Homo sapiens: one gene and its partner. The protein of the gene in region 2 interacts with the protein of the main gene of each other region in a biochemical or structural test. Each region holds a gene or a part of one and is shown on either strand. Other genes may lie near its edges.

Region 1 (3,651 bases), on a different chromosome or scaffold from region 2:
GGCCAATCTCGAGGTCCCTTCTGGACCCCACCCACTGCAAAGGGCTGGCGACCTAGAGGGGACTCTGGGGAACTCTTATAGGCCATGCACCCTAACAGAAGCCATGGGGGACCCCCACAAGCACACACTCACTGCTCTGTTGCCCCCACATACAGAGCAAATGTGAAGCTGACCTCTGCCATGGAAGCGATGGTAAAGAACATCAGATTTATCTGGCTTTACTATCGGCGCCTGGTATGTGTCAGTATCTCTCAATAAAGCTGGAGGGCACATGACACCTGGGGCTCCTGGGTCATAGCAAGTTTGTTTTGGGTCAAAGCATATAAGTCAGGCAAGCTGCTGTGTTCTCCTGGGTTCCTTAGGCACTTAGCCCTTGAGTCTCCCTGCTTGTCTCCAGAATGCAGGCCCTACACTCCCACAGCAGCCTCCCTGTGCCACCAGTGCATTCACCTGATCACACAGCTGCCTGGGCCATCTTCAGGAAACAAAGTCTGGTCATGCCAAGACTTTGCTGAAGCCCTCTGAAGGCAGCCATATCTGGAACTCCATTCAGCTCATGCCCATTACCTGCAAGCCTCTTGTGACCTGGCCCTGCCCAGCCCTCCTCATCTGGCCATGGTTTCATGAGCACAGAAGGCACTTTCTGGCCTCAGGGCCTTGTACTCTCTGTCCCGTGCCTGGGATGCTCCACTCCTGGTTTTCTGCAAGGTTGGCTCCTTTTTAAATTTCTGGTCATTCAAATGTCATTTCCTTGCAGAGTGTCAGTCCCTTTCTGCACATGCTCACTGTAACCTGCTAGGGCATCCTAGTCCGCCCTTTCTGCATGTGGTCAGGGTTAACCTGCTGGTGTCCCGTGGCTCTCTTCTGCACGTGGTTATTTTTACCTGCTGGTGCATCACAGCCCCTTTCTGCACTGGTCACTAACCTATTAGCATGTTGTGGCTCCTTTGTGGCATTTGTCACAGTTTGGGTTTGTCTTATTATTTGTTGTCCATTTCTCCCCTCGAGAATTTGAGCTCCCCAAAGGGAGGGGCATCTGGAATGTTTTCTTGTTCAGTGATAAATCCTGGGCACAGCATGGCACCTGGCACATAAAGGCAATCCCTAACTTTGTTGAGTGAATGATTAGTGACGGAATTGCTGCCCCATTCTGAGGGTCCAGGCATCCTTGTTGGTGTATTCCTCGTTACTCTCTAGCCTCAGCCTGGCACTAGGCTTATAGAAAGTAGCTCAGTGAACTCCTGACTGGTGAATTCAGGAGACAGTGGGGCTGGGCCATGATTCCAAGTCTGAGTGTCCAGTCAGTCTCCTAGGCCTGCACCTGAGGAGCTTCCGGCTCTGAGCTTTTGCAGCCCCAGGCTCCTGTGCTGGGACCCCCAGCGTGCAGCACTGTCAGGCCTCTGGGCTGGCAGCTGTTGTCTTGGCATTCTGCTGAGGAGGGACCACTGACTCTTCACAGAGACACACTCACTCTTCCTTCCCCAAACCAGTTTCCTTCACTTTGATCCAGTTTGAGATCAAAGATGAGACTACCTCCTGGAATAATCAGGCCAGGTGGTCCTGGAACACTTTTCTTAGAACTGACGCCTCCATTCTTGGCAGGGTGTTTTCAGATCACCCTGGGAGATGCCTCTAATATGATGTACTTTTTTCTCTTTTAACATTATGTACTAAAGAGAACTACTTCATCATCTTCCTTTCGTCGGCGTATTTGTAATTAAGACGCCTGCAAATTCCATGTCATCCTTGATTTCAGGGAAGAGCTTTGAGCATCAGAGACTCATTCACGGCTAAAGTTAAATCAAACATACCCAAGGAAAACAAGGATCTAGTTGTTTAATCTTCAGCTGCTTCCTTTGATCCCATCCTGGATTCTTGCAAGAAGTGAAAAGAAAGGAAGAATCCAAGGATGAGAGGAACTTTAAAAGGGTCAAGTTCAGCTGAGGTTTCTGCCCATTTCATGAATGAACATTTGAGGAACAGCTCTAAAAATTGTCCCTTTCTTGGGCAGTCAAAACTTGTTTCTATGGAAATGGGATTTTTACACCACTGCTTATCTGTCATTTCAAAAAGCATGGCTGGTTTTCAATTTTCCCTAGAAAAACTCATTTCTTTTTCCTCGGTAGGAATTCCCTTCATCCAATTTCGTGCCTCATTTTGCCCAGGGCCATTCACAGCTCTTAATTTTTAGATGCATTTAAAGGTGGTGGTGAGTCGCCCAGGCGGTGAACTCAGGTGAGAGTTCTTAAGGCTCCCTCTGATCCTCAGATGATCAAATGCCCAGGGCCCATCAGTGAAGACCACGCCCAGCAAAGGAGACATGCTGAGAGATAGGTCTGTGGCTGAGAGGAGACAGCCCTCACGGCAAGGGGGACAGCTCTGGTGCCCTGGCAACTCCGTCCTGGACCCCCCCCCAGTGGTGGTTCTGACTGCCCCCCACTTGTCCTTGTCAGTGTGTCCCGTGGCCGTGGCGCACCTCCATGGGGGCTTTGTCCCAAGTGCTCAGCCTGGTGAGGTTATTAGATCCGAGAAGCAAGGGCGAGGGAGAGGATTGAGCCTAGTTTAGTGCCTACAGTGAATGCTCTTCATCTTTGTCCTCTGGCCTCAGGCCATCCTGTTTCTAGTCCAACTCTGAGTGTAAAGTGTAACCCTTGGCCGGGAGCAAGAAGGGAACAGACATGGCCTCTGGGAGCTTGGCAGTGCCAGTGAACCCCTAGTGACTAAGCCTGCTGTTATCGGCCGCAGGGTGACCTCCTAGTGACTAAGCCTGCTATTAGCCTCTTGCTGACCAAAGAGCTTGGCCTAAGGACAGTCAGAGGCCTGAGAGCAGCCCCGCCCGCGGCAGTCTCAGCCTTGCAGGTGTTCGGTTTGCCAGTTGGTCATTCCTTCCAAGGCAGTCCCTGGCTCCCACAAGGTGAGGAGTCAAACCCTGAGCCAGCTCCATGGGTTGGAGGTCTAGTTCCGCGTCTTCCTGTGAAGTAGCCTCGGCTCAGTAGCTTCACCGCCCTGCCTTCTGCTTCCTTGTTCACACAGTGGGAAAAATTACAGGCCCTGGCTCAGGGGTGCCGTGGAATGTAGTGCCTGGCGTTTGGTGAATGCTTTGTGTCATAGGTGTGGGCTCCTGTTCTTACTGTAAGAGAGCCGGGCTATAAATAACAGGACAGCTGGGAGGCGGCCGTTCTTGGCACTCACGCGTGGGTCGGCGGTGGTATGCAGCTGCTCTCCTTCAGAGTACAGCAGGATTCTGCCCTATGAAGTCTGCTTTGAGCCAGCCCCCTCTCAGGGTCCCCCTGGAGAAATGCAGGGCAGAGAAACCCTAGAGACGCTGCAAGTTGGGGTCCCACTCCCCTGTGGGCACCCCAGGAGCTGGCCCAGCCTGAAGACGAGTAGAGGGGATGAGCTGTCCAGCTGCCACTCAGGGAGAGGTCTCCATGGACGGGGTCCCTGGACTCCCCGAGTGGAGTGCTCAGGGGAGCACAGCTTGGTGCAGGATGCCCTGCTGACCTGAACAGTGGATTCCTTCCTCCAGCCCTAGAGCCATTCCCTTCCAGCTCCTTCCTTACTGCAGACATTGCTTACAAGGGGAAGTGAGAGTCAGGAAACCCCAGCCTGTGTCCCAGCTCTGCCTCCTGCTGGCTGTGTATGTGGACA
Region 2 (3,651 bases):
CTCTGTTGAGCTCCAGACGCATGTCACCACCTACCTAATCTCTACTTAGATGTGTACCAGGCATCTCGATATCTACATGGCTGAAAAAGAACCACTGACTTTCTCCCATGCTCTAAAATTTCCTCCTCCACAATTCTTTCCCATCTAGGCATCAAAACTAATATTTAGTCTCATTTTTTCCCTCTTTCATCATAAGCCAAATTCAATCCAAAAGTAAGTCCTATTCACTGTACCACTAACATATTCCAAATTCGAAAGCTTTGATTTCCACTGCTACTACCCTAAGCCAAGCCACCATCATCTTTTTCCTGGATTATTGCGTCAGCCTACTAGAGGGCCTCCCTCTGTTGTGGTCTGAATGTTTGTGTCCCCACAAAACCTAGATGTTGAAACTTAACCCCCAATGCAATAGTATTAACAGGTGAGGACTTTAGGAGGTGATTAGTTCATGATGGTGGAGACTTCATGAATGTGGTTAGTGCCCTTATAAAAGAGACCCCAGAAGCTGCCTGGACCCTTCCACCATGTCAGAGCATAGCAAAAAGACCATCTAAGAACCAGACAGCTTGCTTCCCTCACCAGACACTGGGGATATTTGGAACTGAAGAACCACTGATAGCAGCTTCTTATAATTACAAAGTGAAAATTGGCAGTGATGGACTGAAAAATCATTGCAGTAGCTTTCCAACTGGCTCACTCTTTATTTGCATTCATAAGAAATATCAAAGATATCATTAAAGAGGGCAAATAATTGCAATGTAGTTATAGTGACACACTGTTGATCTATGCTGAGGTAACTCATAGCCAGCTTCAGAAGACTTCAGAAGATGTGATGAAAGGGTTTCCAAGGCTCTTATATTATTTTCTGACTTTAGGAAGGAAGAAAGTTGAATATAATTTAATGTAAGAAAATAAAAACAGGATAAAATTTTCATTCATAGGCAGCACATAATATTTGAGTAGGAAATAATATTATTCATGTCTGATCTAAAAATTGGGTAAATAAAATATTCAAACAGTTTAAATACCTGAAAGGTAAGAACATGCTTTGGTAAAAGTCCCATTGTTAGTATTAACAGTGAAGTGAAATACAAAAGTTAGCCGGGTGTGGTGGAACACACTTTTAATCCCAGCTACCTGGGAGGCTGAGGCCCGAGAATCACTTAAACCTGGGAGATGGAGGTTGCAGTGAGCCAAGATTGTGTCCCTGCACTCCAGCCTGGGTGATAGAGTGTGACTCTGTCTCAAAAAAAAAAAAAAAAAAAGAGCAAAACAAATAAACAAACAAAAACAATGAAGTGAGGCATAGATCTATGAATTCAAATAGTTTTTCATCCTCATCTTCCCATTCCCATTCACCATGATTCATAGCAAACTAAAACCTGCTAGGGCCCTTGTGAAAATCTCCTAAATTATAAAGACTTGGTAGATATAAGCATCTGAGCAAATTTTCTCAAGGACTTAAGAGGAGAATAACAGAGAAGTCATGAATAGCAACGAGGGAGAGAATTTATGAAGAAAGAAAAAATTACAGTTCTAGAAGCCTGGAGGTCTTACTTGGGATGTTCAGTAATTTTGGTAGAACATAATAAACTACAACTTGAGGAGGAAGATGGTTGTTACAAATCTATGTAGGCCCTGGGGCCAGAGATTATTGACTTAGATTGTGTGTAAAATAAGATCATTATTTAATAAGTTTGGTTATTTACTTTTTCATTTTGTCCAGAAACAATGAAGCTGGAGAAACAGGGAATTAGATAGGTCAGCAATTAAGTCCTGGAGAAATCAACAGCACTAGAAGTATAGGAGAGGTAGAATTGGTCTGAACAAGCCAATGAGATCTGGATGGAGCCTGAGGAGGCAGTGTTGGGCAGCATTAGCGTTCCAGCAATGCTGGAACGTGGTTCACCTCCCCCTGCTCTGCATTCCTGCCTAGAGGTGGGCTTGCCTGGACTTACCAGTTGCCTTGTGACCAGAATGAGGCCAGAGGACAGGAAGTGAATTCTAGTACAAATTAAATCAAATGGGTCAGTCATTTAAAGTAACTTCCTGTTATCCAACCATGAGTTAATTAAATGGTTACATATCTAAAAGTGGAAAATTGGGTTCACTCGTTTGTAAATTCAACAAATATTTCACGAGTTCCTTCTCTGCACCTGCTACCGTGCTAGGCACAGAAAGTATAGCCTGTATCTATATCTATAGCCTCTTATTTCTGAGGCCACAAGGTGCACAAAGTGTCATAATGCTAATGATTTTACAAAGAACTAATATATATACATATATCTATATCTATCTATCTATCTATCTATCTATCTATCTATCTATCTATCTATACATATATATACAGGTGCTAACTTCCCTGTATTTCCCAGCCAAAGACAATTTCTCTTGCTTCTGAAATTTCACAGGAAATTTTCTGTAGCTTTCTAATTACTTACTGCTTTCTCTCTCTAACCATATTTTATTTTACTTAATTTGATTACTAGGTCCTTTAGGACAGAATTATTGCTATTTCATTTTTGTGTCTTCTAAAGTGAGTGAATATATGCAGGCATATAGATAAAACATACACAAAATATTGAATACATCCAACATACAGAGAGGTATATTATAATATTAATGGTAAAATTAAGAGCTAAGAGATTATGTGTGATAATTATTTCTTTTTTTATTTTGTATGTACTGTCTAAATCATAGACAAGGAATATATGTTACATCTCTCTCACCCACGTCCCCAGTAAAAGCTACTTAAAAAAAGAACAGAAAGTATCACACTAGAATAGCAAGTGTGTATTTCAATTATGAGATAAGAGTATGTTAAGGGCTGTACACACGGAGAGTCTTTTTAATAAAATATTGTTTCAGCTTGAAGAAGCAATAGAAAGTTACAATTATGTATTCATCTCCAAAACGAAACTGTTTTCTCAAAGTTATGACCTGGAACCTTGGAGTAGAGAAGAGCAGAGTTATATGCAATTACATCACTTCAAGAAAATGAGACAAAGCATCTATAATTCCATCCAGTATCTAGTTCTCTCAAAAAAGGAAAAGAGTTAACAGAGTGATGGTTTCTGGGAAACATTTGGCTCCATACTTTTTCTTAAAATGTGCTTTATTTGCAGAGACAGTAAAGGTCAAGAGTTGGCATATATACAAACTATCACTTAATTAAGTAATATTGGTTGCAGTCAGTGATTGTTGGTTTTGAGATAGAAATAATGTATTATAATCATTGAATCTAAGAGAGGACTAAGCAGAATATGAATCAAACACACTTCTATGTGAGCATGCCACTGCCCTCAGTTCAAGTGGAATCTAATTGGAAATGCCAAAACTTTACTGTTCTATTGCATATTTACATGGTACTAATGCCATGCATTTTATTCTGCTCAAGGTGCCCTCAGGGAGATAAAGAAAGCAGAAACGGTCAGAGAAGCAAATTTGTATTAAGGCACTTAAGGCATCTTGCCACCACTGGGTCTGGGAGGCGCTGCTCAGTCTGCCGACAGCATCTTCTGGAATTACTGGTGTGGTGGAACTCAAAAATTTTCTGCTTCACCTGAGCTTCCCAGTAGAAATTCTTAGGCTGACGTCACAAAGATCACGACTCATTTTTCCTGTTTGTATATTTGCTGCAAAAGAATCGAC

Evidence for each region. Proteins that work in one complex are often made in the same cells at the same time.
Region 1: the proteins of RASSF6 (region 2) and SHANK2 interact in a test that uses a peptide from one of them, tested with the Homo sapiens proteins (one large-scale study listed by IntAct).

Annotation. Positions count from the first base shown.
Region 1 is NC_000011.10:70,479,559-70,483,209, forward strand, and holds part of SHANK2 (SH3 and multiple ankyrin repeat domains protein 2), read right to left. Parts: intron 1-3,651. UniProt on the Homo sapiens protein: Seems to be an adapter protein in the postsynaptic density (PSD) of excitatory synapses that interconnects receptors of the postsynaptic membrane including NMDA-type and metabotropic glutamate receptors, and the actin-based cytoskeleton.
Region 2 is NC_000004.12:73,613,933-73,617,583, forward strand, and holds part of RASSF6 (ras association domain-containing protein 6), read right to left. Parts: intron 2,005-3,651; coding exon of another isoform or gene 1,959-2,004; intron 1-1,958.